Linked DNA regions of Homo sapiens. The protein of the gene in region 1 interacts with the protein of each later gene in a pairwise test. Each region holds a gene or a part of one and is shown in the gene's direction. Other genes may lie near its edges.

The links.
Region 2: the proteins of CDC45 (region 1) and RAB4B interact in binary tests that used the Homo sapiens proteins (3 or more experiments, as listed by UniProt).
Region 3: the proteins of CDC45 (region 1) and ORC2 interact in a two-hybrid assay, tested with the Homo sapiens proteins (one large-scale study listed by BioGRID).
Region 4: the proteins of CDC45 (region 1) and RPA2 interact in binary tests that used the Homo sapiens proteins (3 or more experiments, as listed by UniProt).
Region 5: the proteins of CDC45 (region 1) and CAMK1G interact in a two-hybrid assay, tested with the Homo sapiens proteins (one large-scale study listed by BioGRID and IntAct).

Annotation. Positions count from the first base shown.
Region 1 is NC_000022.11:19,484,465-19,490,844, forward strand, and holds part of CDC45 (cell division control protein 45 homolog), read left to right. Parts: intron 1-6,380. UniProt on the Homo sapiens protein: Required for initiation of chromosomal DNA replication. Core component of CDC45-MCM-GINS (CMG) helicase, the molecular machine that unwinds template DNA during replication, and around which the replisome is built.
Region 2 is NC_000019.10:40,790,050-40,796,429, forward strand, and holds part of RAB4B (ras-related protein Rab-4B), read left to right. Parts: intron 1-6,380. UniProt on the Homo sapiens protein: The small GTPases Rab are key regulators of intracellular membrane trafficking, from the formation of transport vesicles to their fusion with membranes.
Region 3 is NC_000002.12:200,923,906-200,930,285, reverse strand, and holds part of ORC2 (origin recognition complex subunit 2), read left to right. Parts: intron 1-3,385; coding exon 3,386-3,518; intron 3,519-4,353; coding exon 4,354-4,450; intron 4,451-6,380. UniProt on the Homo sapiens protein: Component of the origin recognition complex (ORC) that binds origins of replication. DNA-binding is ATP-dependent. The specific DNA sequences that define origins of replication have not been identified yet.
Region 4 is NC_000001.11:27,893,391-27,899,546, reverse strand, and holds part of RPA2 (replication protein A 32 kDa subunit), read left to right. Parts: intron 1-1,839; coding exon 1,840-1,914; intron 1,915-2,425; coding exon 2,426-2,542; intron 2,543-5,149; coding exon 5,150-5,257; intron 5,258-5,440; coding exon 5,441-5,535; intron 5,536-6,156. UniProt on the Homo sapiens protein: As part of the heterotrimeric replication protein A complex (RPA/RP-A), binds and stabilizes single-stranded DNA intermediates that form during DNA replication or upon DNA stress.
Region 5 is NC_000001.11:209,606,432-209,612,674, forward strand, and holds part of CAMK1G (calcium/calmodulin-dependent protein kinase type 1G), read left to right. Parts: coding exon 1-12; intron 13-1,426; coding exon 1,427-1,502; intron 1,503-2,548; coding exon 2,549-2,661; intron 2,662-3,419; coding exon 3,420-3,498; intron 3,499-5,033; coding exon 5,034-5,121; intron 5,122-5,360; coding exon 5,361-5,785; intron 5,786-6,243. UniProt on the Homo sapiens protein: Calcium/calmodulin-dependent protein kinase belonging to a proposed calcium-triggered signaling cascade. In vitro phosphorylates transcription factor CREB1.

The DNA of each region.
Region 1 (6,380 bases):
ATGTGGACCTTGGGTCTGAGCTGCTTAGTGATCTGGGGCTGGGCCCAGTGGCCTACCCAACACTACGGCTTCTGCAAGATGTAAAATGACAGGCAGAAGGTGGTTGTTCCCATAGCACGGAGGGCCACGTGATGCTTTTGAAGATGGCCTCTGGCTCCTGATCTTGGTGTGTGACCTAGAATTTGCCCCCGTAATGTTCTAGGGTCTTCCCTTCATCCTCAGCCTGACATTTCCCGGTAATGTGCTTTTGGGAAGCCTTTTTGAGCCATATTTGAGATGTTCAAGACATTCTTCATTTGGGGAAGGGGCAATGCCCTTCAAACTGAGGCATGCTTCTCTCTTCTTTCTCACCTTTGTCACCCCTTTCACTAGGTTTGGGTGTCTCATAGGGAACCTCTTGGACCCACTGTTATATTTTCTTACCTCTTGCCCAGCTCTTTGTTCTATTTTTTGGAAGACTTTTTGTTTTTTGTTTTTTTTTTGTTTTTTCCCCAGACGGGGTCTCTCTCTGTTTCCCAGGCTGGCCTCAAACTTCGGGCTCACTCGATCTTCCCACTTCAGCCTCCCAAGTAGCTGAGACTAAGCACATGCCACTACACTCAGCTTGGTCTTTATCTTCTAATCTTTGGTTTGTGAGGGGTCCTTTTTGTTCTCTGAATTTTTTTTTATATAGCATTCTTTTAACTATCGATGAGCTGCATTTCATTGGTTCCCAAATGTCAGTATCCAATGGGATTTCCCGGGAAACATTCATGTTCTACAGATAAGTCTTGGAATTTTCCACTCTGACTAATAAACAAATATTTTTTAAGCACTTACTATGTGCCAGGTACCAGTTAGGCCCTGGGGTGCGGGTATGAGAGCAAAGTCCTGCCTTTGCAAAGCTTTCCATTGGGGGAGACAGATACTGATCATGTAAATGAGCACAATTAGGGAAAGCTTTCAGGTATCAAACATGAGTTAGCAGGGGATGGAGCCAAGAGGATTCCTGGGCAGAGCATCCATAGACACTGCAGCTCTGAGGTGGGAAGGAAAGTTTCAAGGAAGGCTTGGCCAGCAGTGCCAAAGGAACAGGCAAATGAGAACAGACCAGTGGGTTTGGCAATAAAGAGAAGGTAGGTTGTCTTGATGAGATACAGGAAAATAATCAGCGTTTCCTTTTACATACTTAACACATCAATTTGGAATTTGTGTTTGTAAATGTTTAACATAATATTCATGGATTATAATAGGCATAATTTCCCACCAACTTTTTATTTTGAAATTTTTTGAAATGTATACAGTGGTTGAAAGGATAGTACAGTGAATATCCATGTACCTTCAATCTAGAGTCAACAGTGGATCATGACTGTAGGTGGTCTCAGCTACTTGGGAGGCCAAGGCAGGAGGATTGATGAAGCCCAGGAATTTGAGAACAGCCTGGGCAACATGAAGAGAACCTGTCTCAAAAAAAACAAAAACAGTTTTTCACATTTGCCACATTTGCTTTCTTTCTGTGTATTCTTTTTTCTGTATTATTTGAGAATAGATTGCAGAAACTGATATTCTTTTTTATTTTTTATTTTGTTTTTTCTTGAGATGGAGTCTCACTCTGTCACTGAGGCTGGGGTGCAGTGGCACGATCTCGGCTCCCTTCAACCTCTGTCTTCTGGGTTCAAGCGATTCGCCTGCCTCAGCCTCCCAAGTAGCTAGGATTACAGGCATGCACTGCCACAGCCAGCCAGAAACCATGATATTCTACACATTCTTTCATAAGCAGCTCCTAAGAATAAGGACATTCTTCCCCATAAACACAATGCCATTGTCATACATAAGAAATTAATAATATCCTAATATCATGTAATATTCAGCCCATATTCAGGTCTCTTTAATTGTCCTCAAAATATATTTTGCAGCTATTTTTATTTCTGAACTATTCTCCAATCAAGATTAAGACATTTAGCTATTCCTCTTTACTGTCTTAACCTAGAACCATACCTTACCTCTTTTTTTTCTTTTGTTTTTAATGACATTGAAGGCCAGTTCTCTTTTCTAATATTTACTACTACTTGTTTCTTCATGGAGTACTTTAACTTGCTTCTCTATCCCTGCATTTTCTATGATCTGTAAATTAGGTCTAGAGCGTTGATTTTAATAACATTAAGCATTCTTGAGAAGAATACTTTTTATATAATTAAAACCTGTGCATGATTTATAACTAAGTATGTGTATATTAGAGGTATATATATATTTTTTTGAGACGGAGTCTCGCTCTGTCGCCCAGGCTGGAGTGCAGTGGTACGATCTCGGCTCACTGCAAGCTCCTGGGTTCATGCCATTCTCCTGCCTCAGACTCCCAAGTAGCTGGGACTACAGGTGCCTGCCACCACGCCCAGCTAATTTTTTATATTTTTAGTAGAGACGGGGTTTCACCGTGTTAGCCAGGATGGTCTCGATCTCCTGACCTCATGATCCTCCCACCTTGGCCTCCCAAAGTGCTGGGATTACAGGCGTGAGCCACCGTGCCCGGCTGCTTTTTAGAGGTATATTCTTAGAAATATTTTTACCAGCCTGGTGTGGTGGCTCAAGCCTGTAATCCCAACACTTTGGGAGGCCAAGGCGGGTGAATCACCTGAGGTCAGGAGTTTGAGACCAGCCTGACCAACATGGAGAAACCCTGTCTCTACTAAATACAAAAATTAGCCAGGAGCAATGGCAGATGCCGGTAATCCCAGCTACTCGAGAGGCTGAGGCAGGAGAATTGCTTGAACCTGGGAGGCGGAGGTTGTAGTGGGCCAAGATCACGCCACTGCACTCCAGCCTGGGCGACAGAGCAATACTCTTGTCTCAAAAAAAAAAAAAAAAAAAGAAATATTTATACCAGACTGGACAACATAGCAAGACACTGTCTCTACAGAAAAATAAAATAAAAATTAGCCAGGCATGGTAGCATGGTCACATAGGCCCGGCTACTTGGGAGGCTAGAGTGGGAGGATGCCTTGAGACCAGGAGGTTGGTTGAGGCTGCAGTGATCCATGATCACATCACTGCACTCCAGCCTGGGCAACAGAGCAGGACCTCATCTCTTAAAAAGAAAAGAATGAAATATTTTTATTAATAAGGGTGCACATTCAAAGAGGTTTAGAGACAATAGGTTATAAATAATTGTTTTAAGGAGTTCTGCTATAGGCCGGGCGTGGTGGCTCACGCCTGTAATCCCAGCACTTTGGGAGGCCGAGGTGGGTGGATCACGAGGTCAGGAGATTGAGACCATCCTGCTAACACGGTGAAACCCCATCTCTACTAAAAATACAAAAAATTTCCCGGGCATGGTGGCAGGAGCCTGTAGTCCCAGCTACTCAGAAGGCTGAGGCAGGAGGATGGTGTGAATCCAGGAAGCAGAGCCTGCAGTGAGCTGAGATCCACCACTGCACTCCAGCCTGGGCAACAGAGCAAGACTCCGTCTCAAAAAAAAAAAAAAAAAAAAAAGAGTTCTGCTGTAAAGAAAAGAGGAGACATGGGGTCGAGAATCATTTTTACTTGTCTTTTAAAGGTTGGATGTTAGAGCTGGACCCCAGCAAAGATGAGAGTCCGCTATAAAAATAACCATAATTATACTTAATCTACAGGTGCTATAATATCGTGGCTCAGGTCACGGGTTTCAAATTTTGTATCTGCTATAACAGCTTTGTGACTGTAGGCAAGTGACTTAACCTCTGTGTGCCATTGTAAAATAAGGAGAATAACTAGACTTAATTGTTTTGGTTCCTACTGATGTTTAACAAATTACTCCAGAACCTAGCAGCTTAAAACAACCTTTTCCTTATGCTCATGGATTCTGTAGGTTAGGAATTTGGGCAGAGCCCAGTGAGGATGACATCTTTTTGATCTGTGATATCTGGGCCCTCAGGTGGGGACTCAATGGCTAAGAACTGGAAGCATGGCTCAGACATCTGCTGGGAGGGCTCCAAACCAGGACTACTGAGCCAAGCACCTGCAGGGTCTCTCCATTGAATGTGACTTCCTTACAACATGACTGCTCAGGCTTCCAGCATGAATATTCCAGTCACCCGGGCAGCCACTGCATGGCTCTCCCGACCAGCCTTGGAGTACCTCAGCATCCAGTAGCCACAAGGGAGGGGACAGGACCCCACCATGCATTGTGGCAGGGTCAAAGAAATCTCAGGCTGTGGGAATTTTGTTACTTTATTGAGGCATAATGTCTACACAATTCACTAGGTGGTACAATTCAATGAGATTTAACAAATGTATAAAGATGCAACCACCATCCCACCATGATAGAGAACAATTCCATTACCCGCAAAAAGTTTCCTCACCAGGACCATGGCTTTTTTTTAATTAAAGTTTTTCTTTTGAGATAATTACAGATTCACATGTAGTTGTAAGAAGTAATATAGAGAGATCACTTATATACTTTGCCCAGCTTCCCCCAATGGTAAAATCCTGTAGTATAATATCACGGTCAGGATGGGAGGCTAAGGCAGGCGGATCACTTGAGCCCAGGAGTTGGAGACCAGCCTGGGCAACATGGCAAAACCCTGTCTCTACAAAAACTACAAAAATTAGCCAGGTGTGGTGGTGCACACCTATGGTCCCAGCTACTTGGGAGGCTGAGGTGGGAGAATCACCTGAGCCCAGTAAGTCGAGGCTGCAGTGAGCTGTGAGCACACAACTGCATTCCAGCCTGGGCAACTGAGACTATCTCTAAAGAAAAGAAAGTCTCCTTTCTAAATTTATAAATCATGTGATTTTTCAGTTGGCACTCTAAAGGTTAGAAATCACTGTGAAAGTTCTGCCAGAAACTGAATATGTCTATTCCATTTATGCATTCAGAAACTGCCAAAATAACCCATGGGTATTGCTTTAAAAAAAAAAAAAAAGATACAGAACATTTCCAGCACTGTAAGGATCCCTCTGTTGCCCTTTTATAGCCACACCCACTTGTCTGCTGCCTGGTAACCACTAGAGAGCTCCATTTCTGTAATTTCATTTCAACAATATTATGGAAATGGAAATGGAATTATACAGTATGTAGCCTTTTGGGATTGGCTTTTTTTCGCTCTGCATAATTCTTGGAGATTCATCCATGTTTGCTTGTATCAATGGCTCATTCCTTTCTCGTCCATCAGCATTGTGCAGTTTTCAGTGTATAAATTTTCTGTTTTTGTTAGATTTATACCTGCATAAAAACAAACAATATTTATTATTTCTGCGTGCTAGCCATAAATACGTGGACACCAAAATTTAAAATACAGTATCATTTGCAGTCAGTCAAAAAAATGCATAGTCTGCTGTTGTTGGGTAGAGTTTTTTAGAAATGTCACTTACATACTGAGAGTTGGTGGTGGTGTTGAGTTCTGTTTGCTTGCTGCTTTTCTGGCTAGTAATACTTTCAACTCTTCAGAAAGGGACATTGAAGACCCCAACTCTGATTATAGATTTGTTTGTTTCTCCTTCCAGTTCTATCACTTTTTACTTCACGTATTTATAGCTCTCTTGTGCGCACACATTTAGGATTGTGGTGTCCTTTTGGTGGATTGACCCTTTTATTCACTTAGTGTCCCACTCTGTCTCTGGTAATTTGCTTTGCTCTGAAGTGTGATTTATCTGATATTAATATTGCCACTCCTGCTCTCCTTTGATTAATGTTTGCACGATATATCTTTTCACATTCTTTAGTTTCATTCTGCCTATATTGTTACATTTGTAGTGAATTTTTTAAAACAGCATACAGTTGGCTCATATTTTTAAATCATGTTTTTTAAAGCCATTCTCTATCTCTTAATTGATAAACTTAGCTTACTTACATTTATTTTAGTTACTGACATGTTAGGGCTTAAGTCTGACATTTTATTTTCTGTTTCCTGGTCTCTGTTTTTTTTATTCTATTTTTTTCTTGTTCTTTGTTATTTGTATTTTTATTTTTTTGAGATGGAGTTTCGCTCTGTTGCCCAGGCTGGAATGCAGTGGCGCGATCTTGGCTCACTGCAACCTCTGCCTCCCAGGTTCAAGCAATTCTCCTGCCTCAGCCTCCTGAGTAGCTGGGACTACAGGCACGTGCCACCACGCCCAGCTAATTTTTTGTATTTTTAGTAGAGATGGGGTTTCACCTTGTTGGGCAGGCTGGCCTCAAACTCCTGACCTCAGGTGATCCGCCCACCTCAGCCTCCCAAAGTGCTGGGATTACAGCCACTGCGTCCAGCCTGTTTTCTTTCTTTTTCTTTCCTCTAGTGTTTGTGAGTCTATCTCCTTGTATAGATTTTTTAGTGGTTGTTTCAGGTTATTACATTACATATCCATAACTTATCACAGTCTACTGGTATCATCATTTTACCAGTTGAGTCACATGTAGAAACCTTATCTTCTTTTTTTTTTTTTTT
Region 2 (6,380 bases), on another chromosome or scaffold:
GATCAGTTAGGGCCTGTGGGCCCTGGGGAGGCCTCTGGCTTATACCCTGTGTGGGAGCCATGGGAGGCTTCTGAACAGAGGAAGGACAGGATCAGATTCAGGGGTGCAGAGAGTTCCTCTGGCTGCATAAAGGGAAGGGGCTGTGAGGGACAGAGGAGGTCACCAGGACACCAGAGAGGAAGCTGCTGCAAAGTCCAGGGAAGATGGTGGAGGACAGGACAAGGGGGCGGGAAGAGGAGTGGCTGAGAAGGGAATAGGGTTCATGTCCTCCCTAGACTCTCTGTCTTCCAGTCTTGGCCTCTCTCTTTTTTTTTTTTTTGGTTCCTGTCTTTTTATTTTGAGACAGAGTCTCGCTCTGTCACCCAGGCTGGAGTGCAGTGGCGCGATCTTGGCTTACTGCAAGCTCCGCCTCCTGGGTTCATGCCATTCTCCTGCCTCAGCCTCCTGAGTAGCTGGGACTACAGGCACCCGTCACCATGCCCGGCTAATTTTTTGTATTTTTTTTAGTAGAGATGGGGTTTCACGGTGTTAGCCAGGATGGTCTCGATCTCCTGACCTCGTGATCCTCCTGCCTCGGCCTCCCAAAGTGCTGGGATTACAGGCATGAGCCTTTCCTTTTTTTTTTTTTTTTTTTTTAATTTTAGAGAGAATCTCACTCTGCTCACTCTGTCACCCAGGCTAGAGTGCAGTGGCGCCATCTTGGCTCACTGCGACCTCCGCCTCCCGGGTTCAAGTGAGTCTCCTGCCTCAGCCTCCCAAGTAGCTGGGATTACAGGCATGTACTGCCACAACCAGCTAATTTTTGTATTTTTTTTTTTTTTTTGGAGATGGAGTCTCGCTTTGTTGCCCAGGCTGGAGTGCAGTGGTGCAGTCTCGGCTCACTGCAACCTCCGCCTCCTGGGTTCAGGTGATTCTTCTGCCTCAGCCTCCCGAGTAGCTGGGACTACAGGTGCGTGCCACCACGTCTGGCTAATTTTCTGTATTTTTAGTAGAGATGGGGTTTCACCATGTTAGCCAGGATGGTCTCGATCTCCTGACCTCGTGATCCACCTGCCTCGGCCTCCCAAAGTGCTGGGATGACAGGCGTGAGACATTGCGCCCGGCCAATTTTTGTATTTTTAATACAGACAGGGTTTTGCCATGCTCGTGAGGCTGGTCTTGAACTCCTGACTTCAGGTGATTCACCCGCCTTGGCCTCCCAAAGTGCTGGGATTACAGGCCTGAGCCACTGTGCCCTGCCAATCCTGTCTCCTTTTGATGCAGCCACTGGGTCTTTCTAACACACATATCTGCTCCTGTCGCTCCCTTTTTCAAAACCATCCATGCATCTCAGGGCCCCAGGACACAAATGAACTCCTCAGCCTGGTGTTTGACCCTCTGCAGGGACTGGCCCCTGCCAGCCCAGCCTTACCGGCCTCAGCCACTTGTCGGTCTCCCTACCTCTCAGGCCACTCCAGCCACACTGAAGTTCTTCCCATTCCTCTGGGCCCTTGCTCATGCTGGGCCTCTGCTTGGAACATTCCTACCCTCTTTTCCCTGGCAACCTCCTTCCTCCAGGCAGCACTACTTGTTCCTCCAGGCTTGGTCCAAACTTTTGTTTTTTTTTGAGATAGAGTCTCTGTCACTCAGGCTGGAGTGCAGTGGCGTGATTTCGGCTCACCGCAACCTCCGCTTCCAGGTTCAAGCAATTCTGGTGCCCCAGCCTCCTGAGTAGCTGGGACTATGGGCATGGGCCACCAACGCCTGGCAAAGTTTTTATATTTTTAGTAGAGACAGGGTTTCACCACGTTGGCCAGCTGCTCACAAACTCCTGGCCTCAAGTGATCCACCCACCTCAGCATCCAAAGTGCTGGAATTATAGGCATGAGCCACTGCACCCGGCCCCAAACTTCTTGACAGGCTTTCAAAACCCTGCAGGATTTGGTCCCATCCCTCCTTCTCTGGGGGATGTGTATGTCTTGCCAGTTCTCCCTTCTATACTTCATGCTAAATCCCCTCCCAGCCCTTGGCAGCTCCAGGGTGGGACAGGTGGGGAACAAGTGGTTAGACCTTGGATCTACTTGGAAGGCAGAGCCAACGTGATTTCCTGATGGAATGGATGTGTAATCTGAAAGAGAGAGAGGAATCAAGGATGATGTCTTCAGACAGTGCTCTCTTGTCTTTCCAGGACTTTGCACCTGCTGTGCCTGAGCCTAAGTTTGCTCATCTGTAAAATGAGGCTAATAATAGCACCTGCTTCTATAGATGTTGAGAAGAAGAAATACATTAATTCACGAAAGTGCTCAGAATGGGGCCTGATGGTCAAGACTTGATCGATGAGGGCTGTTTTTAAAGTTTTCTTCTTATCCATCTTTGGGCTGAGCTCAAATGAATGGGTGTGTCTTCTTCACCTCAGGGCTTAGCAGAGACTCTGTCCTAGAGAGTTTGCCCTCAGTAGGTGAAATGTAACAAGGCAAGGCAAGGCTTTTTCACACTTTGCTGACTGCAATCTACAGGAGGAAATATATTTTATGTGTTAATCAAGGACTGACTGTAGCAGATCCCACCCACATATAAAACTCAAACACACATTTTCCTACCACCAGTATTCTTTCGTTTCTTGGCACTAAAATGAAAGTCACATAACATACATTTACGTGACTTTTCAAAGTGTACAATTCAGTGGCATTCAGTACATTCACAGGGTTGTGCAATCACCACTTCTGTGTTGTTCCAGAATGTTTTCTTTTTTTTTCTTTTCTTTTTTTTGGAGACAGAGTCTCGCTCTGTTACCCAGGCTGGAGTGCAGTGGTGCGATCTTGGCTCATTGCAAGCTCCACTTCCAGGGTTCAAGCAATTCTCCTGCCTCAACCTCTGGAGTAGCTGGAATTACAGGCATGCACCACCACACCCGGCTAATTTTCGTATTTTTAGTGGAAACGGCATTTGACCGTGGCCAGGCTGGCTTGAACTCCTGACCTCAGGTGATCCACCCGCCTCGGTCTCCCAAAGTGCTGGGATTACAGGTGTGAGCCACTGCGCCCGGCCTCAGAACGTTTTCATTACTCTCAGAGGTGCCATGCTTATACTGCTTTGTACCTTATACCTTTGTACCCATATTTATTAAGCAGTCACTCTCCATTTCCCCCAACCCCTAGCAACCACCAATTTGTTTTCTGTCTCTTTTGGCCAATATGATATTCTTTTCCTTTTCCTTTTTTTTTTGAGAAGGGTCTCACTTTGTCACCCAGGCTGGAGTGCAGTGGCACCATCTCAGCTCACTGCAGCCTTGACCTCCTGGGCTCAAGTGTTTCTCCCACCTCAGCCCCCCAAGTAACTGGGACTACTGGTGTGCACCACCACGCCCAGCTAATTTTTATATTTGTATTTTTTGAAGAGATGGGGTTTCACCATGTTGCTCAGGCTGGTCTCGAACTCCTGAGCTCAAGTGATCCACCCACCTCAGCCTCCCAAAGTGCTGGAATTACAGGTGGGAGCCACCATGCCTGGCCTCTTTTCCTTTTTTCTTTTCTTTTCTTTTTTGTTTTTTTTTTTTTTTTTTTTTTTAGATATGGTCTCACTGTGTTAGCGGGGTTGGTCTTAAGCTCCTGGCCTTGCCGGGCGCAGTGGCTCACGCCTGTAATCCCACCACTTTGGGAGGCTGAGGCGGGCAGATCACGAGGTCAGGAGTTCGAGACCAGGGTGACCAACATGGTAAAACCCCACCTCTACTAAAAATACAAAAGTTAGCCAGGCGTGGTGGTGTGCTCCTGTAATCCCAGCTACTCAGGGGGCTGAGGCAGAGGAATAGCTTGATCCCTGGAATCAGAGGTTTTAGTGAGCCGAGATCGCACCACTGCACTCCAGCCTGGGCGACAGAGCTAGACTCCGTCTCACAAAAACAAAAACAAACAAACCAAAAAAACCAAAACAAAACAAAAAAACTCCTGGCCTCAAGCAATCCTCCACCTCAGCCTCCCAAAGTGCTAAGATTACAGGCATGAGCCACCGAGCCCAGCCAACCAATATAATATATCTTTTTAAATTATTATTATTATTTTTTGAGATGGAGTTTCGCTTATGTTGCCCAAGCTGGAGTGCAATGGTGTGGTCTCGGCTCACTGAAATCTCCGCCTCTCAAGTTCAAGCGATTCTCTTGCCTCAGCCTCCCTAGTAGCTGGGATTACAGGCGCCCGCCACCACGCCCAGCTAATTTCTTTGTATTTTTAGTAGAGACAGGGTTTCAACATGTTGGCCAGGCTGGTCTCAAACTCCTGACCTCAGGTGATCCGTCTGTCAGCCTCCCAAAGTGTTGGGATTATAGGCATGAGCCACTGCGCCCGGCCTATTTACAAAATTTTTTTTTTTAAATAATGTTTTAATTTTGTAGAGATGGTGTCTATGTTGCCCAGGCTGGTCTTGAACTCCTGGGCCCAAGTGATCCTCTCTTGCCCTTGCCTCCCAAAGTGCTAGGATTATAGGTGTGAGCCACTGTGCCTGCCCAACCAATAGAATATTCTTATTATATATGATGCACTCTGGTATTTGCCGTTCTGTGCTATTCTGTTTGAATTTAAAAATTGGTCAAGACCCACCAAACTGATTTCCCCACCAAGGCAGTGACACACATTAGAATGACCTGGAGAATTTTAAAAGATACTGATGCCCAGGCCTCACCCTAGAGATTCTGAAGTGGTTTCAGGACTTTTTCTTAATTAAAAGATAAATAGAGATGAGGTCTCACTATGTTGCCCAGGCTGGTCTCAAACTCCTGGCCTCAAACGATTTCTCCCACCTTGGCCTCCCAAAGTGCTGGGATTAAAGACGTGTGCCAGGCTGGGCATGGTGGCTCACGCCTGTGATCCCAGCACTTTGGGGGGCTGAGGCAGGCGGATCACAAGGTCAGGAGATGAAGACCATCCTGGCTTGATCTGTAGATCAAGTGAAACCCCGTCTCTACTAAAAATACAAAAAAAAAAAAAAAAAAAAAATTAGCCAGGCGTGGTGGCAAGTGCCTGTAGTTCCAGCTACTCAGGAGGCTGAGGCAGGAGAATGGCGTGAACGCAGGAGGCGGAGCTTGCAGTGAGCCTAGATCGCGCCACTGCACTTCAGCCCAGGCAATAGAGCGAGGCTCCATCTCCAAAAAAAAAAAAAAAAAAAAAAGATGTGAGCCAGCCAGTTGCAGGATTTCTGGAAGCTCCCAGGTAATGCTATATACAACCAAAGTGAGAACCACTAACCTAACGTTGTCTCCCCAGCTTGGGGAACAGTGAAATGAGACTTAGAGCCAGGGTGATCCAGGAACATAGAGGGACACAGAAAGATACAAAGGCAGGTTCATTTTATTTATTTATTTATTTATTTATTTATTTATTTATTTAAATTTTTTGAGATGGAGTGTCCCTCTGTTGCCCGGGCTGGAGTGCAGTGGTGTGATCTTGGCTCACTGCAACCTCCGCCTCCTGGGTTCAAGTGATTCTCCTGCCTCAGCCTCCCAAGTAGCTGGGACTACAGGCACCTACCACCACGCCTGGCTAATTTTTGTATTTTTAGTAGAGACGGGGTTTCACCATTGGCCAGGGCGGTCTGAACTCCTGACCTTGTGATCTGCCTGTCTCGGCCTCCCAAAGTGCTGGGATTACAGGCGTGAGCCACCGTGCCTGGCCGATTTATTTATTTATTTATTTATTTATTTTGAGATGGAGTTTCGCTCTTGTTGCCCAGGTTGGAGTGCAATAGTGCAATGTCAGCTCACCGTAACTTCTGCCTCCTGGGTTTACAAGATTCTCCTGCCTCAGCCTACTGAGTAGCTGGGATTACAGGCATGTGCCACCACACCTGGCTAATTTTGTATTTTTAGTGGAGATGAGGTTTCTCCATGTTGGTCAGGCTGGTCTGGAACTCCCGACTTCAGGTGATCTGCCCGCCTCGGCCTCCCAAAGTGCTGGGATTACAGGCATGAGCCACCGCGCCCGGCCTATTTATTTTTTTGAGACAGTCTCACTCTGTTGCCTAGGCTGGAGTGCAGTGGCACAATCTTGGCTCACTGCAATCTCCACCTCTCAGGCTCAAGCGATGTTCCCACCTCAGCCCCCCAGGTAGCTGGGACTACTGGTGCATGCCACTACACCTGGCTAATGTTTGTATGTTTTTGTAGAGACGGGGTTTCGTGGTGTTGCCTAAGCTGGTCTCAAACTCCTGGGCTCAAGCATTCCTCCTGCCTTGGCTTCCCACAGTGCTGGGATTACAGGCGTGAGCCACTGCGTCCATCCAGATTCATGATATTTAGATGTTGAAATGTGGCTTTACAGACTCAGACAGCTCTCTGAGGCAAACAAAGAGGGAGATGCAGGTACCCTCAGCACAAGCCCCAAATTACCTGCAGGGGAGAGGCGGAAAAT
Region 3 (6,380 bases), on another chromosome or scaffold:
TGAATTCCTTGCCTCTTTATTTCTGCTGCTTTGACCTTGGTAATCTCTACCTTTGGAGGTTACCTCTTTTCTGTTCTTCCATTTCTAGGTTATCCTGCATTGCCAGAGAGCATCACATAAATACTGTTTCTGCTTGACCTTTGTAAACAATCACGGAGTTGGACTTTAGCTTGACCTCTAGTGCTTGGTGTTCTGGGTGGTCTCATTCACCCTTCTGGCTTCAGTTGTTTTCTGTATATGAATGACTCATGTAACTGTTAACCTCCAACCCATACCTCACTCTCAGTAGCAGACCTGGATATCTGAATGTATATTAGAAGTTTATACTTGGGTGTCCTGTAAATAATTCAACATACATAAAATTAAACTCATCTGAAATCCACTGTTCCCACCTGCCCCTGCTATCCAGCAGAGTGAATGACTGAATGTTAGTCACTCCATTTGTGTAGTTGCCTATGGCAGAAAACTGAGTCATTCTTTTTTTTTTTTCTTTTCTTTTTAAGAGACAGTCTCACTCTGTCACCCAGAATGGTGTGAATACAGCTCAAGGAGCCCCAACCTCCTGGGTTCAAGCAATCCTCCCACCTCAGCTTCCCAAATAGCTGGGTCCATAGATGTGTGCCACCATGCCTGGGCTAATTTTTTTTATTTTTTATTGTGTAGAGATGAGGTCTCACCATCTTGCCTAGGCTGGTCTCAAACCCCTGGGCACAAGCAATTCTCTGCCTTGGCTTCCAAAACTGCTGGGATTACAGGTGTGAGCCACAGCGCCCAGCCCTGAGTCATTCTTAAGTATTCTTTTCCTCACTCTCCACATCTAATCAGTCTCCAACTCTTACTGGTTTGACTTTCTATAAAGTTCTTGACATTTTAACATTTTTCTCCATGACAGCTAAGTTAATCTTCCACAGTTTTGTTCCTTCCTGTCCATTCCCCAAATATAATCAATGTGATCTTTCTGAAAAGAACATGTTACTTTCCTACTTAAAACCTTTCTGTTAACCCCTCATTAGTTACTTTTAAATGCTCATTCTTGGCTGGGCACGGTGGCTCACGTCTGTAATTCCAGCACTTTGGGAGGCCAAGGTGGGTGGATCACCTGAGGTCAGGAGTTCCAGACCAGCCTGACCAACATAGTGAAATCCTGTCTCTACTAAAAATACAAAGTTAGCCGGGCTTAGTGGTGCATGCCTGTAATCCCAGCTACTTGGGAGGGTGAGGCAGGAGAATTGCTTGAACGCGGGAGGCAGTGAGCCAAAATCGCACCACTGCACTCCAGCCTGGGTGACAGAGCAGGACTCCATCTCAAAATAAATAAATAAATGCTCATTCTCCTTGGAATGAGTGAATTAATGGTTTAGTATGACTTAACAAGGCCTTTGTTACTTGACCTCTTTTCAATTTGTATCAGTTTCAACTCTGCTTCAGCCTATAAAAGTTTTTAGGACTTTTTTTTTGTTGTTTTTTTTTTTGAGACAGAGTCTTGCTCTGTTGCCCAGGCTGAAGTGCAGTGGTGCAATCTCGGCTCACTGCAAGCTCTGCCTCCCGTGTTCACGCCATTCTCCTGCCTCAGCCTCCTGAGTAGCTGGGACTACAGGTGCCTGCCACCACGCCCAGCTAATTTTTTTGTATTTTTAGTAGAGACAGGATTTCACCGTGTTAGCCAAGATGGTCTCGATCTCCTGACCTCGTGATCCGCCCGCCTCGGCCTCCCAAAGTGCTGGGATTACAGGCGTGAGCCACTGCGCCTGGCCTTTTTAGGGCTTTTATTGGCAATGGTCTCCCTTGCCTCCAGTCATCTGTCATCTGAAAAGTAATAGAAGCTACAGTGAAGCTACTGAACAAATTAGAACTAGAAGCTTGGTATACAGATAATAAAATTGTGCCTTTACCTTGTATGGGTTTGGAATAAATATTTATTTATTTATTTAAGATGGAATCTTACTCTGTTGCCCAGGCTGGAATGTAGTGATGTGATCTCAGCTCTCTGCAACCTCCACCTCCCAGGTTCAAGCAATTCTCCTGCCTCAGCCTCCCAAGTAGCTGGGATTACAGGCACCTGCCACCATGCCCAGCCAATTTTTGTATTTTTAGTAGAGACAGGATTTCACCATGTTGGCCAGGCTGGTCTCGAATTCCTGGCCTCATGTGATCCACCTGCCTCGACCTCCCAAAGTGCTGGGATTACAGGCGTGAGCCATCATGCCCGGCCAATAATAATTTTTAAAAAGAATACTTTTTTTTTTTAGGAAGGAAGAGGAAGAACTGGGATGGCTGAATCACTAAACATTGATTCCTGGCCTTGCACGGTGGCTCATGCCTGTAATCCCAGCACTTTGAGAGGCTAAGGCAGGCACATCACCTGAGGTCAAGAGTTCAAGACCAACATGGTGAAACCCCGTCTCTACTAAAAATATAAAAATTAGCTGGGCATGGTGGCGGGCGCCTGTAATCCAGCTGCTCAGGAGGCTGAGGCAGGAGAATCGCTTGAACCCGGGAGGCGGAGGTTGCAGTGAGCTATGATGGTGCCACTACACTCCAGCCTGGGCGACAGAGCGAAAAAAAAAATTATTATTAATTAGTTAATTTTTTTTTACAGACACTGTCTTGCTCTGTTGCCCTGGTTGGAGTGCAGTGGCGGGATCTCGGCTCACTGCAAGCTCCGCCTTCCGTGTTCACGCCATTCTCCTGCCTCAGCCTCCCAAGTAGCTGGGACTACAGGCACCCGCCACTGCACCCAGCTAATTTTTTTTTTTTTTGTATTTTTAGTAGAGATGGGGTTTCACTGTGGTCTCGATCTCCTGACCTCGTGATCCGCCCACCTCGGCCTCCCAAAGTGCTGGGATTACAGGCGTGAGCCACCGCACCTGACCTAATTTTTTTTTTAAATAAAAATATTTTTGGCTAGACATGGTGGCTCACACCTGTAGTCCCAGCAATTTTGGGGGCCAAGGTGGGTGGATTACTTGAGCCCAGTTGTTCAAGACCAGCCTGGGCAACATGGCAAAAGCTCATCTCTAGTAAAAATATAAAAATTAGCCAGGTATGGTGGTGCACAGCTGTAGCCCCAGCTTCTTGGGAGACTGACGCTGAAGAGTTGCTTGAACCTGGGAGGCTGAGGTTGCAGTGAGCCAAGAGTGCCACTGGACTCCAGTCTGGGTGACAGAGTGACTCTGTCTCAAAAAAAAAAAGATACATATATATACATACATGAAAAACTTTTTTGCGTTTGCCTTCCCAAAATTCGGGGATTACAGGCTTGAGCCAGTGCGCCTACCCCTTTCCTGTATTTTTTATAAACTGAATTTAAGGAAACTGGTTGATAATAAAATTGGCAATAAGAGGTATTGAAGTTTAATTTCATGAATACTGTCTTTCCTAACAGCCTTGGGTTCAACATTGTGCTTTATGGTTTGGGTTCTAAGAGAGATTTACTAGAAAGGTTTCGAACCACTATGCTGCAAGATTCCATTCACGTTGTCATCAATGGCTTCTTTCCTGGAATCAGTGTGAAATCAGTAAGTTTCAAAAATGTTAAAGGGAAAAACATTATATCCTCTGCCAATTCAAGCCCCCACATAAATGAGGATGGAGTATTAAAGAATTTTTGTTTTAGCCTTCACGGTAGTAGGATTGTATAGTGCTTAATACCATGTGTTTGGACTCAAGAATCTAGCTTTGAAACCATCTTCGAATGTCCTACATTGTAACTGACATGTATTAAAACTTAGGAAAATGTTAGCTTTGTTTACTATACTGAGTATCAGTGGTACTTCTGAAGGAGGGAATTATGGGGTCTTCAGTTTTGTTATAAACTATGAAAATGCTTTATTAGGCAAAAACTACATGCTGTGAAAATGCTTTAAAATGCAACAGGATGTGATGTGAAGACTGTAGTTTAACAATACATTTATCATAGATCATTTTTATTTCAAATGCTTAATATCTCTTCATCATTTGAACATGAAATCTTTTGGGTGCTGGATATTGAGCCATATAGTATTCCTTTTTTAAAGTGTCTGTAGTGTTTGTGTCCTGTTTCCTTTGATAGAACTGTAGTTTTCTAATGTTTCTCATGTTCTTGGGAGCTTTTTCATTTGTTTTTGCTGCCCTCTTATATTACCTATTACCTGTACATCTTTGCTATTCTTTTCTGTTTTCTTTTAGCCACAACTTAGGCAAAAAACAATGAATTAGATATACTCAAGTACCAGTAGAATTTTTAAAAGTTATTTTTTAAACTTTTGGGAAATCCAAATTCATTTTTAATTTATAAAAAAAGGTTTGATTTTCTAGTTGTATATGACAATAAATTGTAATTAATGTGGTACCTCTTCCACATTCATGATATAGGTCCTGAATTCTATAACAGAAGAAGTCCTCGATCATATGGGTACTTTCCGCAGTATACTGGATCAGCTAGACTGGATAGTAAACAAATTTAAAGAAGGTAACATGAAGTAGATGCTCGGTAGTTTTAGAGTAAAGTTAAGCATATACTTCTACTTATTCATGTATTTATATACATACAATATTATTATTATTATTTTTGAGACAGTCTCTCTGTTGCCCAGCCTGGAGTGCAGTGGTGCGATCATGGCTCACTGCAGCCTTGACCTTCTGGGCTCAAGCAATTCTCCCACTTCAGCCTCCCAGGTAGCTCAGATCACAGGCGTGTGCCATTATGCCTGGCTAATTTTTTATTATTTGTAGAGATGAGGTCTCGCTATGTTGCCCAGGATAGTCTTGAACTTCTGGGCTCAAGCAGTCCTCCTGCCTTGGCCTCCCAAAGGGCTGAGATTATAGGTGTGAGCCACCACACCTGGCCCAAAAAGATTATTTTAATAATGGCATTTATCTTGGTGCTCTAAAAAAGTTTGTCCTTTTTCTATGAACTTTTTCCGTGAACTTAACAGGAAAGAAAAATGTTAGTCCCACTTTCTTAAGTTTGTATATCCAAAAGCCTGTTTCTGTTTATAAAACACTCCAAAAGTGCAGTGGCACGATTTTGGCTCACTGCAACCTCCGCCTCCCGGGTTCAAGCAATTCTCCTGCCTCAGCCTCTCAAGTAGCTGGGATTACAGGCGTGCACCACCAAGCCCAGCGAATTTATTTCAGAATAATTTTCAGGTTTTGTTTTGCTTGTGTAAAGTGCCTCCACTTGAGTGGTACAAGTTTGTCTGATATTTTTATATTGTTTAATGTTTTTATAAAACATTATTTCTTGGCTGGGCGCAGTGGCTGACGCCTGTAATCCCAGCACTTTGGGAGGCCGAGCTCAGTGGGTCACCTGAGGTCAGGAGTTCGAGACCAGCCTGGCCAATATGGTGAAACCCCATCTCTACAAAAATACAAAAAAATTAGCCAGGCGTGGTGGCACATGCCTGTAGTCCCAGCTACTTGGGAGGGTGAGGCAGGAGAATTGCTTGAGCCCGGGAGGCAGAGATTGCAGTGAGCCAAGATCATACCACTGCACTCCACCCTGGGTGATAGAGTGAGACTCTATCTAAAAATAAATAAATAAATAAAACATTATTTCTTTATTCTGTGTACATATCATTACATTGAGATAATTTTATATACTAAGATCTCTTGATTCTTTTGGTGTGAATGTTTTGGTTATGTGAGTATGTCAGAAAATTGGAAATAGTATTATATAGTCTCTAACAGTTAATTGCCATTTAGTAATGACTAAATTAAGAATTAAGAGAAGTAATTGAGAATGCCTAACTGCTTTGATGGATAATTTTTTTGATAATGACAATAATCTTAGCTCTGTTCCGTAGTACTTTTATCTTGTCAATATTCTAGCATGTTCTTTAGTTTTGTCTTCATTTTGTTTCCAACCTGAAAAGCTTTCTGTCCCAAATTTCCTTTCACACTCCTACACCCATTTTATCCACAGTTCTTTATAGAAATGGACCGTATACTTTTTTTTTTTAACACAGTCTTGCTCTCTCACCCAGGCTGGAGTCCAGTGGCACAAACACAGCTCACTACATCCTAAATCTCCTGGGCCCAAGTGATCCACCCAACTCAGCCTCCCCATTAGCTGGGACTACAGGCACATATCACCTGCCTGGCTATTGTTAAAATTTTTTGTAGAGATGGAGTCTCACTGTGTTGCCCAGGCTGGTCTCAAACTCCTAGGCCTCAAGGGATACTCCTGCCTGGGCCTTCCAAAGTGCTGGGATTACAGGCATGAGCCCAGCCAGACAATATACATTTTTATACCAACTCTACACATTTGAAAACAGGTAGAGTTGATTCTCATTATTCACAAATTCTATAATAGCAAATTTACCTGCTTGCTAACATTTATTTATAATCCCAAAATCAATATTCTTGGTACTTTTGCAAAGTGAAACATGGCACAGAGT
Region 4 (6,156 bases), on another chromosome or scaffold:
GTTTTGTTTGTGTGGTTTTTTTTTTTTTTTTTTCTTTTTTTTTTTGAGATAGAGTCCTGCTCTGTTGCCCAGCCTGGAGTGCAGTGGCACAGTCTCTCACTGCAACCTCTGCCTCCTGGGTTCAAGTGATTCTCCTGCCTCAGCCTCCCGAGTAGCTGGGACTACAGGCACCCACCACCACACCTGGCTAATCTTTGCATTTTTAGTAGAGACAGGGTTTCCCTGTTAGCCAGGCTGGTCTCGAACTCCTGACCTCGTGATCCGCCCGCCTCAGCCTCCCAAAGAGCTGGGATTACAGGCGTGAGCCACTGTGCCCACCCTTTTTTTTGTATTATTAACAGAGGCAGGGTTTCACCACGTTGGCCAGGCTGGTCTCGAACTCCTAACCTCAAGTGACTTGCTCGCCTTGGCCTCCCAAAATGCTAGGATTACAGGCATGAGTCACTGCACCTGGCCAGAGTTTTTATTTTTAAGCATATATTTTCTAGTTTTTTGTTTGTTTTTAGAGACGAGGTCTCACTATGTTGCCCAGGCTGGTTTCAAACTCCTGAGCTCGAAGGATCCTCCTGCCTTGTCCTCCTAAAGTGCTAGGATAACAGGTGTGAGTCCATATACCCCGATATATTTTCAATTTTTTTTAAAGTAATACATTTTATGTAGTCAGAAAAGAACTTTAAAAATCAGCTAATGGGCCGGACACGATGGCTCAAGCCTGTAATCCCAGCACTTTGGGAGGCCGCGACGGGTGGATCATGAGGTCAGGAGATCGAGACCATCCTGGCCAACATGGGGAAACCCCGTCTCTACTAAAGATACAAAAAAAATACAAAAAAATTAACCAGGTGTGGTGGCAGGCGCCTATAGTCCCAGCTATTTGGGAGGCTGAGGCAGGAGAATCACTTAAACTTGTGAGGCAGAGGTTGCAATGAGCCGAGATCATGCCGCTCCACTCCAGTCTGGGTGACAGAGCAAGACACTTCGTCTCAAAAAAAAAAAAAAAAATCAGCTAATGTATTTTTCTTATAAATAATGTGTGCATATTCTAGGAAACTGATAAGTATTAAAATCGTTTTTAATTATCTTAGTCAACCATTATAAACAGTTTAGTGTGTATTGTCCCAAATGGGAAATCAGCTTTTTTCCATGTATCATGACTTGTTTTTCCAGGCAGTAAATAGAATTCTATGTTATCATTTGCAACAGTGTGGAGTATCCTATTATATAGAAATGTGTACTTTATGTTGGATATTTAGGTTGTTTTAAAATTTTTAATATTCTATACTATGATAAATCTAAATCTTAATGCATGTTCTTAATTACTTCCTTAAATTCCTAAAAGTAGAATTGCTTTGCCAATAAGTATATCCACCAGAAAATTGTGTGCCTGCCGGGCGTGGTGGCGGGCGCCTGTAATCCCAGCTACTGGGGAAGTTGAGGCAGGAGAATTACTCAAACCCTCCCTTGGGAGGCGGAGGTTGCAGCGAGCCAAGATCGTGCCACTGCACTCCAGCCTGGGTGACAGAGCGAGACTCCCTCTCAAAAAAAGAAAAAAGAAAATTGTGTGCCTAAGAGCTTGAACGAGAGTGTCACAATTGTTTGCTTTTTTATGATGTGCTACAGAACTTTGGAACTGATAATTACCTTTAGAGATATTTTTATTCTAATTCCTGGTTTTACAAAATAAGTTGTAAAAGGCAGGGCAAACTACTTAATGCCATTTTAGGATCCTTTAACTCTTCTACTTCGTAACTTTCTCTTTCTATACATAATATAGAAACGTTAAAGAGGCTTTTACCAGCATCACTAAAACTTTAATGACATGTTTGTATTTTATGTTAGGACACCAGCAGTGAAAACACTGTGGTTCCTCCAGAAACATATGTGAAAGTGGCAGGCCACCTGAGATCTTTTCAGGTAAAGTCAGAATAAAATAACAGTTAAAGTGTTTTTGCATGAAGCAGTTTCTAGATTCATGTCATGGCTTTTGGATAGTTAAAATACTTAAGTCTCCCTGTTTAATGGGAAGTTATTTCTTACTCTCTTCAAAAGGAAATAACTTTTCTTTTTTTTTTTTTTAACCTTAACATGAAATTAACAGAATGGTAAAGAAAGAACAGAATCTCCTTCTACAATTGCTATCTGTGGCGTTCATTAGTTGGAGAAAGGAGAACACTAGATTCGGAGTCAGGAGTCTAGATTTTGCTTGGTTATGCAATCTTGGGAAAATTATTAATGTCCCTTAGCTATTAGTTTTAGTTTTTTTTCTCCTCATGTTTGACCATATTTGGAATACCTCTGAGAGTATATAACATTTTTCTCATATTGGTGAAATATTAATATTATAACCAAGGAAAGAGCCACAGTGTTGACCTGAAATTAATGTATGTTCATATTTTATTCACATTTTTTTCCTTCATTTTAATAGAACAAAAAGAGCCTGGTAGCCTTTAAGATCATGCCCCTGGAGGATATGAATGAGTTCACCACACATATTCTGGAAGTGATCAATGCACACATGGTACTAAGCAAAGCCAACAGCCAGGTGAGTAGTCTCGCTTTCCTAGCTTTTTCTCTTCCCTGGAAGAACACAGGCTACTTTTGTGTTCCAGCTTTGATTTCCTTGATATTTTGAAGGCCGAGCCAGAGAAAGACATCACTAAGTCCTCAGAACACTTTCTCCATTAGCTTTGTCATTGTATTTTATTCCAGATGAAACACTCATGTTTCTCTCAGAATTAGGAGTTCCTCTGACTCCACTGGCCTGGACAGCTGAGGCCTGTGACAACCCTCAGGTGTAGACATGTAATTATAGGCTCTTAGCTCTTATATAGCTCTTAGCTCCAGGATTGTCAGTGCATACTCAGAGAGTAGTCCCCTTCAGGACAGCATTTTGCTGTCTTCCTTCCAACTTACTGGCTAAGTAGGAAAAATTATGTATTATTATTTTTTCCCTGAAATTATATTTCTTGGTTCATATTGAAATTTCTCCCTAGTATTTTCCATTGTGTGAATTCACTTTGACAAGTCCATCTAGGACCATGCAAAACTAGAGTTGACTGTAGTATTAGAAAGCCCTCAGGGCAAGGTGTGGTGGTTCATGGCCTGAAATCTCAGCACTTTGGGAGGCTGGTGTGGGGGCATCACTTGAGCCCAGTTCAAGACACCACGCTGGGCAACATAGGGAGACCCTGTCTCTACAAAAAAAATTAAAGAATTAGATGGGCTACTTGGAAGGCTGAGGTTGGGAGATCACTTAAGCCCAGGAGGTCAAGGCTGCATTGAGCTGTGATCGTGCCACTCACTGCAGCCTGGGCAACAGAGCAACCTTGTCTCAAAAAAAAATAAAGAAAAAGAAAAATATTTATTGCGCCTACTTTGATTTGATAGTCCCAATCATTCTAGTCGGCATTCGAGTATAGCAGTGAACACTATATACTTACATTCTTGGGAGAAACAAGTAATAAACAAAAATATATGTATAATTTTAGGTAGTTATATAGGTGCTCTGAAGTAAATAAAACAGGAGAAGAGGCTGATGGAGGGAACAAGAATGGTACAATTTTAGATGAGGAACATTCTAAACCAGAGGGACTAGGATGTGCAAGAGCCAGGAGTGTGGAGTAAGCATGACATCTCTGAAACCAGCAAGGCCAGTGTCTGGAGTGAAGTGAATGACAGGGGAGAGGGAGAGGGTTGTAGGCAAGGAGGCAGGGCCCAGATTATATGGGGCTTTGGAGGCCATGGTAAGGATTACCTTTACTCAAATTTTTAAAATTTTGTTTATTTGGGTTTTTTGTTTTTGTTTTTGTTTTTTTTGAGACAGAGTCTCGCTCTTTCGCCCAGGCTGGAGTGCAGTGGTGCGATCTCGGCTCACTGCAAGCTCCGCCTCCCGGGTTCACGCCATTCTCCTGCCTCAGCCTCCCGAGTAGCTGGGACCACAGGCGCCCACCACCACACCCGGCTGCCACCACACCCGGCTAATTTTTTGTATTTTTAGTAGAGAAGGGGTTTCACCGTGTTAGCCAGGATGATCTCGATCTCCTGACCTCGTGATCTGCCCGTCTCAGCCTCCTTTCAAAGTGCTGGGATTACAGGCATGAGCCACCACGCTTGGCCCTTTTTTTCGAGACAGTGTCTCACTCTGTCACTCAGGCTGGAGTGCAATGGCGTGATCTCGGCTCACTGCAGCCTCCGCCTCTCGGGTTCAAGCAATTCTCCTGCCTCAGCCTCGCCAGTATCTGGGATTACAGGTACGCACCACCATACCCAGCTAATTTTTGTATTTTTAATACAGGCGGGGTTTCACCATGTTGGCATCCGGTTAGCAGTCCGGCTGGCAATGAGGATTTGTGGCCTAGGAGGCGGTCTGGGATGAGATCCTGGGGACACTGTCAGCTTTTTGGGAGACAGATAGAAGAGGCTAATGAGGGATACTGAGAAGGTTCAGTTTGAGAGGCAGATGGAGAACCAGAAGAATGTGGTGTCAAGAAGCCCAGGGAGGAATACATTTCAAGAGGAGTGTGGTCAGCAGTGTCTGCTTCCGAGAGGTCAAGTATTAGGAGGACTGAAAGAGACTTTTGGATAATTGGTTGAAAAGTCTTTGGTGACTTTGGTGAAAACAGTTTCAGAGGTGTACTGGGGGACAACCCAAATATGGTGGGCTGAGGAGTGACTGGGGAGAAAGGAAATGAAAATAGTGATTGCAGAGCATTTTAAGAATTTGGTGGTTAAAAAAAAAGAAAGAAAGAGAGGACGATAGGGACTGTGTCTCCTTTTCTCTGCCTGTGGTGCTTCATGCCTATTGACACTCAGTGAATGCTTGAATGATTGGGCTCCATGGATACCAAAATAGCAGACTCTGGGTAATTTTCTTCTTGCTGCTACTCTTCTCTGGTTCGTCTGACATCACAAACAAAAGGAGCCAAGAGTATCTTTCTCTTTTTGATATTTATGTGCTTCGGGGAGTTACTTTATCTTCCTGTGAAATACTCATTAGATAATAGCTGTCCACTCCAATGTAAGCAGTGTTATAAACTGGGAAACTGTTTATAAATTGTTTTTTGTAAGCTGCTTAACGAGCTATTTTAAGTAGTAAAGACTGTTTAACTTGATGGATTTTCTAATATTGCTAACTTATTTCTTAATTCAGCCCTCAGCAGGGAGAGCACCTATCAGCAATCCAGGAATGAGTGAAGCAGGGAACTTTGGTGGGAATAGCTTCATGCCAGCAAATGGCCTCACTGTGGCCCAAAACCAGGTAACCTCCACCAGAGTGGCTTCAGAAATACAAAACACAGATAGTCTTAAATTTTGTTACTTCCTTAATGAGCTACGACTGTTTAAGTACCTGGTTCATTTCTTTTCTATAAAGGGACTCAGGTTTGCAAAGGGGAGGCTGATCCAAAATAATTGCTAAAATCTTTCTGATTTGAATCTTCAGGTGTTGAATTTGATTAAGGCTTGTCCAAGACCTGAAGGGTTGAACTTTCAGGATCTCAAGAACCAGCTGAAACACATGTCTGTATCCTCAATCAAGTAAGTATTTGATTTTCATGAGCTCAGGCTCTGGCATTGTACCTATTTCACCTCACAAGGGTTTCCTGATAGTGAGAAGTGGGTTTAAAAAGTAAAACTTGGCAGCCGGGCATGGTGGCTCACGCCTGTAATCTCAGCACTTTGGGAGGCCGAGGCAGGTGGATCACCTGAGGTCAGGAGTTCGAGACCAGCCTGGCAAACATGGTGAAAACCCCGTTTCTACTAAAAATACAAAAATTAGCCGGGCATGGTGGCACGCAACTGTAATCCCGGCCACTCCGGAGGCTAAGGCAAGAGAATCGCATGAATCCAGGAGGCGGAGGTTGCAGTGAGCCACCATCACACCACTGCACTCCAGCCTGGGTGACAGAGCGAGATTCCATCTCAAAAAAAAGTAAAAGTTCGCCAGGCATTAGCTCATGCCTGTAGTCCTAGCACTTTGGGAGGCTGAGGTGGGCAGATTGCTTGAACTCAGGAGTTCAAGACCAGCCTGGGCAACGTGGCGAAACGCTTGTCTCTACAAAAACAATAAAAACAAATTAGCCGGGCACAGTGGCGCATGTCTGTAGTCCCAGCTACCCAGGAGGCTGAGGTGGGAGGATCGCTTGAGCCCAGAAAGTC
Region 5 (6,243 bases), on another chromosome or scaffold:
CAGGCTACGTGGGTAAGTCTGGGAGCAGGAGGAAGGTTGACCAGTTGGCTACATTCAACCACATGCCTATCATTCATAGAAAGGGGTGATTCTGAGAACATAGGGTTCAACTTCAGGGGCTATCCTGGTAGGACATCCACTTATAAAGTTTAGGGCCAGCCAATTCATCCGTCTCAGGATCTATCTCTACTGCTCCCAAATTCTACATTTTTAAAGACCGCCTACCCCTGAGCCCTCCAGAGTCCCTGCCTATGCTTTGGCTCTCATTTCTGCGGATAGACTTCCAGCCTTTGTCTTTCCAGCTGGACCAGGGGCAGACAAGATCACAAACCCAGAGATCAGCAGAGAGCTGAGGGGTTGAGCACCAACCCTACTCCTTTCTCCCACTCTGAAGGAGACATTAGCCCCCAGTTCTTGGGAGCCTGGAAGCACAGGATATTGAATTTGGGCCTGAGGAACCCAGAAATGGGCTCCTAAATGTCCACCCAAGGAAGCACTCTGGGAAATTGGCAAAGGTGGAGCTTCCTGCTTGAACATCCCTGTAGGTTTCCAGGGCCCCCAAAAAGAGTGAGAGCAGGCAGGGCACCTGGAAGAGTATTCCTGGGATCTACAGGAGACAAAGTTGAAACTCAGAGCATCCGCTCCTGTCCCTTCCCACTTCACCAGTCGTCACCTGTTTGCAGTTGGGTAATGGGAAGCAGAGCTCTGACTCAAGAGAGGGAATCTACCCTCCCAGAAAGGCAGGTCATTCACTCCTCAGTAGGTATTGAGTCCCACCAGGTACAAAGCTCTGGTAGCTGCAAGAAATACAGAAGGCAGCTCTCTACACCCCACAGGGCTCCTAATCAGAGGAAGTCATGGCTCATGCCCTCTGAAAGCTCTCTATCTGATGGGACAGACTAAATGCCTCCCCTCAGAAGGTACCCACAGTCTGATGGGAGACATACTGCCTTTGCTCTGGGAGCTCCTAATCTAATGGGGGTGACTCAGTCTCTGCCTCCCAGAGGCTCCCAGTCTAGTGGAGGAGAGACAGTCCTACACTGAAGATCTCCCAGTCTGAAGGGAGAGAGATCACACTTGCCCTGGGAATCCCCTATCTGAGTGGGGAGACAGGCCCTGCCTTCAGAGAATACTCAGTGTAATCAGGGAGACATAGCCCTGGAGATCCCCAGTCCAACAGGTGAGTCATCGACCCTGTCATGGGGAAACTCACAAACTAATGCAGAAGTCACAGTCTCTCTTTTCAGGAAGATTTAGTCTTCCCAGAAGAGACACAGCCCCTACCCTTAGGGAGTTTTCAGTCTCCTAGAAACCCCACCATCCCACAGTCTTCCCCAGACCTCTTCTCTAAGCCTGGCCTTCAGCTCCCACCCCAAAGCCCTCTCCTCTTGCCACCAGCCCTGACTCTGCCCTTGGTCTGCTGCAGCTCCAGAAGTGCTGGCCCAGAAACCCTACAGCAAGGCTGTGGATTGCTGGTCCATCGGCGTCATCACCTACATATTGTGAGTAGACGCTGGCCTGGGTTCAGCTGATGAGAAGTCTCGGAGCCTGCTTACCCCTTCTCGTTCCCTCCCCTGTCTCAGCTCCTCCTCCAAGCACGTGCATGTGCACAAACAGACACAGGCACAGGGGCACACGGGTACACACACACACACACACACACACATACATGTACACACAGCTTAAAAGCTTCCTCTCTCTTCACCTCCACCAAGTTTTAAAACAGAGCTCAGCGTGAATCCACTGCACAGCCACCTGGCACTCCCTCCTCTTGCACCCCTGCCCCTTTTACTGCCTATAAATGTGTTGCATCCCACTCAGTGGAATGAACAGTGAAAAAGAGAGAGGCCAAGCCAGGCTTGGAAGCCAGGTGGACCCTCTGTTCCTACATCTCAGCTTTCCCAAGGCAAAACTGTGGCCTGGATAAAGCTGGTCAGGGCCTTTCCTTTTCGCTCCTCTCCACACATTCCCAAGCTCTCCCTTTCCTAACCTGCCCATCACCTCTTCCCCACCATCCCTCCTCACCTATAGCAAACTTTGCTCTTAGGAAAATAACCTGGTTTCAATTATCTCCTCCATTTATGTTGAATAAGTACTCTCATTTATTTACCCAACCAATATTCACTGCCTATCTACTCTGCATCTATCCCTGTGCTAGGTTCTAAAGAATCCCGCAGTGAACAACACAGCCTAAATAAATCCTTCATCAAGCTTACATTCAAGTAGACAGTCTACCAACTTTCTTAAACATATTTTATATAGCATTCATAAGTCAGGGAAAGTATAAGGAGAGGTGGCAAGGGTTGGAGGGCATAATGTACACAGGGACCTTCTAGGGATGACTGTGCCAAGGCTTGGCACTTGCATAAACACTTTACGGGACCTGTACCATTCTGGAATTTGAGGCAGATCTGCGTCCTGGTCACACCACTGTTCTGGGACCTTCAGTGCCCACCTGTGTATACAGTGGGAGCTTGGGGGAGCAGAGAGGCTGGCTCAGGGAGGACAGGTTTGTTCAGTAGTATGCCTCCTTCCTGTCCTGCTGCAGGCTCTGTGGATACCCCCCATTCTATGAAGAAACGGAGTCTAAGCTTTTCGAGAAGATCAAGGAGGGCTACTATGAGTTTGAGTCTCCATTCTGGGATGACATTTCTGAGTCAGGTAAGGCCAGTAGGCATGAAGGAGAGATAACAGGCTCAAGGTAGAGGCTGCCAAGAGAAATGAGCTTAACAAAGGATGACAGTCCCGGCTCTTCAAAGTCCCTGGGGATCTTACAGAACAGGCTGCCAAGGAAAGTGGAGAAATCTTCGTCTGCTTCAAAGACCCGATAAATTATTTACATCTAAGAGCTATGCTTTTGTTTTTCTGGAGGCAGAACCACAGTATGCCTGAAAAGGAGATGGGGGGGCAGTTTAGAAGATGGGCCAGGAGGGCAGAGCCAGGTGGTGAGGGGAGAGTTCCAGACAAGAGCAGCAAAACTAAGGGGTTAGATATCAAGAAAGAGCATGCAATGTCTATGTGTGAGAGAAGATGATCATTACGTGATTGTTGGACCTGTTAAGTGGAAATCAGAGCTGGAACAATCCAGCACTCACATGCGTGCCCATGTGCCAGCGCTGGCCCCTGTTTCAGTGCAAACACATGCACATGTGATGTGCAGGCACATGGGGGCCTTGTGACTAGTGACGCTTCTGCAGTGCTGTGTGGGTGAGGCGGCTTGGAGCTTCCCTTCTTTGGTGGTTTATGGTGGGTTGTTGTTAGGTGGTTTGGATTTTTTTTCCTCTTCTAAGACTCTTAAAATTGCCTCTTTGGAAGATCAGCTAAAGATGCATTCACTGCCACCCACCAGCCCGGAAGTGAATTTCCATCAGTCATGAAATCTGGTCCTTAGTCGTCGTGTCTTTGATTACTCCCCTTAGCCAAGGACTTTATTTGCCACTTGCTTGAGAAGGATCCGAACGAGCGGTACACCTGTGAGAAGGCCTTGAGTCATCCCTGGTGAGTGAGACATGGAGTGGACTCTAGACCCCAGCCCTGTAGTTCCCAAAACCATGCTGACTCATTCATATTGCATTTCCCTGGAATCTGCTTGTCCTGATCCATTTAATGATGTGACAAGCAAGGACCATGCCATTGTTCATCAGGCCCAGGTAGAGATTCAAACATTATACAGTGGAGCAGGTTCTAATGCAAGGGTAGCAGCTGGGTTGTCTGGTCAAGTGCAGGAGGCAGGTGCAGCCGAGCGCTGTCATTCAGCACTGGGATAGGGTGCAATGTTCAGTACTAGTTATTCAAGAAGTGCCAGGAATGGGCAACTCTGTCCTGTCCTTTAGAGCTTTGTTTTACTCAGGGATCAATAACTGTTCCAGGTGAAGTGATTTAAGAACAACTGCAAAGCAACCGATTGGCAAAATAGGAAAAAGAAAATCTTAAAATATTTTTTCATGTTACTTCCCAACTCAATTTACAATAGCTCCCCACTTCATACCCCAGCAAGCCTGGATTCCTTTGTCTTTCCAGTTTCCCTAATATGGCCTGACCCTTTATCTCCAGCCTCTTTTCCCAGGATTGCCAGCATACCTCCTCTGTCCAGATAGGCCTGGGAGCTATATCTGTCTCACCCCACATACCAAGCTCTGTCTTAACTACACCTTGGATCAGATCATTCCCACTACCTACAATGTCCTGCCTCTTGCCCTGTATGTAGCATCTTTCAGGATCCAGATCAGTCTCTGCCCTTCCCTGAAGCCCCTGACCCCTGCAGCCCAACCCAATCTCCCCAGTTCTCTTTATTAATCACACGGCTTACCATGTATTACTGCAGTCCATAGCATGAACAACACCCGACATCTAGACTGTAGGCTCCTAGGGGTCAGGGCCCATGTCTCTTACTTCTCGAGGTCTATTAGTAGTTGGCACAGTACTATGCACACAGCAAGTGTCTGAGGAACACTTAGAGACCAGTGAATAAGAGGCTAAGGGGATAGGAAAGGGGCAGCCTGTACCAGACGGCCTTACTGAGGAAGGCTTCCAGGAGGAGGTGGGTTCTAGGCAAGGTTTTGAGCTAAAGGATGGTGACTACCCCAGTGCCCTGTGATGCTGGGTCCAATAAACTTTTTCTATAAAGCATCAGATAGTAAATATTTTAGGCTTTCCTGGCCATACTGTCTTTATGGCAACTACTCAACCCTGCTGTCACAGTGCAAAAGGAGCCACAGACAATACCTGAATTAATGGGCACCACTGTGTCCCCATAAAACCTTATTTACAAAAACAGGCAATAGGTCGATTTGGCCTATAGGCTATAGCTTGTTGACCTTGCTCTAAAAGTTTTTGATTTTGCCAAAGCTAAAGCCGACTCTTACTTGCCCAGGGGCACAGAGGAGACCTGCTTGCAGCCCTTTCCTGCTGTGGGCTGTCTTTCCTCTGCACACTCTACCCAGCTCTCACCTAGACCTGCAGGCACCCTGCCCACTCCCTGGATGAGTGTAAATAGCCACCCAGTAGCCAGGTGTCCCCTCTTACATCCACAGGATTGACGGAAACACAGCCCTCCACCGGGACATCTACCCATCAGTCAGCCTCCAGATCCAGAAGAACTTTGCTAAGAGCAAGTGGAGGGTAAGCTGTCCTCTCCAGGGGGTGGGAAAGCTGTTCTGGGCCCCTGGAGGCTGGGCTGGCAGGGGCTGACATAAGGGCTTTCCTTGGGATGTCCCAGAAGGCATTGGAGCTCCGTGTACCCTCTCTGAAATGAGAAGTGGGCACCCAGGTTTCAAGAGGCCACAAGGCAAAGGGAAAGTTTAAGCTCCAAGGCCCTCTGAGGTTGCAGAAGGCCAGAGGCTGCTCTTGTGTCTCCTTAGCAAGCCTTCAACGCAGCAGCTGTGGTGCACCACATGAGGAAGCTACACATGAACCTGCACAGCCCGGGCGTCCGCCCAGAGGTGGAGAACAGGCCGCCTGAAACTCAAGCCTCAGAAACCTCTAGACCCAGCTCCCCTGAGATCACCATCACCGAGGCACCTGTCCTGGACCACAGTGTAGCACTCCCTGCCCTGACCCAATTACCCTGCCAGCATGGCCGCCGGCCCACTGCCCCTGGTGGCAGGTCCCTCAACTGCCTGGTCAATGGCTCCCTCCACATCAGCAGCAGCCTGGTGCCCATGCATCAGGGGTCCCTGGCCGCCGGGCCCTGTGGCTGCTGCTCCAGCTGCCTGAACATTGGGAGCAAAGGAAAGTCCTCCTACTGCTCTGAGCCCACACTCCTCAAAAAGGCCAACAAAAAACAGTACGTATTTTTAGCCAAAGATGGAGCCCCAGCTTGGGTCTGAAAGAAATCGGTCAACAGGACTGAAAGAAATGGACACAAAGGCCTCTCCCACTCATAGGCAGCTATATAGGGAGGGATGAGTTCTGGATGAGGGGGCAAGGAAAATGCTTCCAGCCCTGTCCCCATCACTTACTAGTTGTGAGGCCATTGACGAGTCAATGTCTCTGCTTCTATTTTGCTCATCTGTAAACTGGGTTGAAGTCTATTTACCCAATTAGCCTGCCTCACAGAGGTACTATAAAAGGTTAGTGAAGCAACAGAGATGATAAAAGCCCACAGAAAACTGGGTATTTGCAAGTGGTGAGCATCAGATTCCCCGAGTTTCCAGGGCCTCTGTGCTTTGCAGAAGGAAGTGTAGGGGGGCTTGGTTATCTTTATCTTTTCTGCAGGTTCTTGAACTTTCTGAACCTCATGAG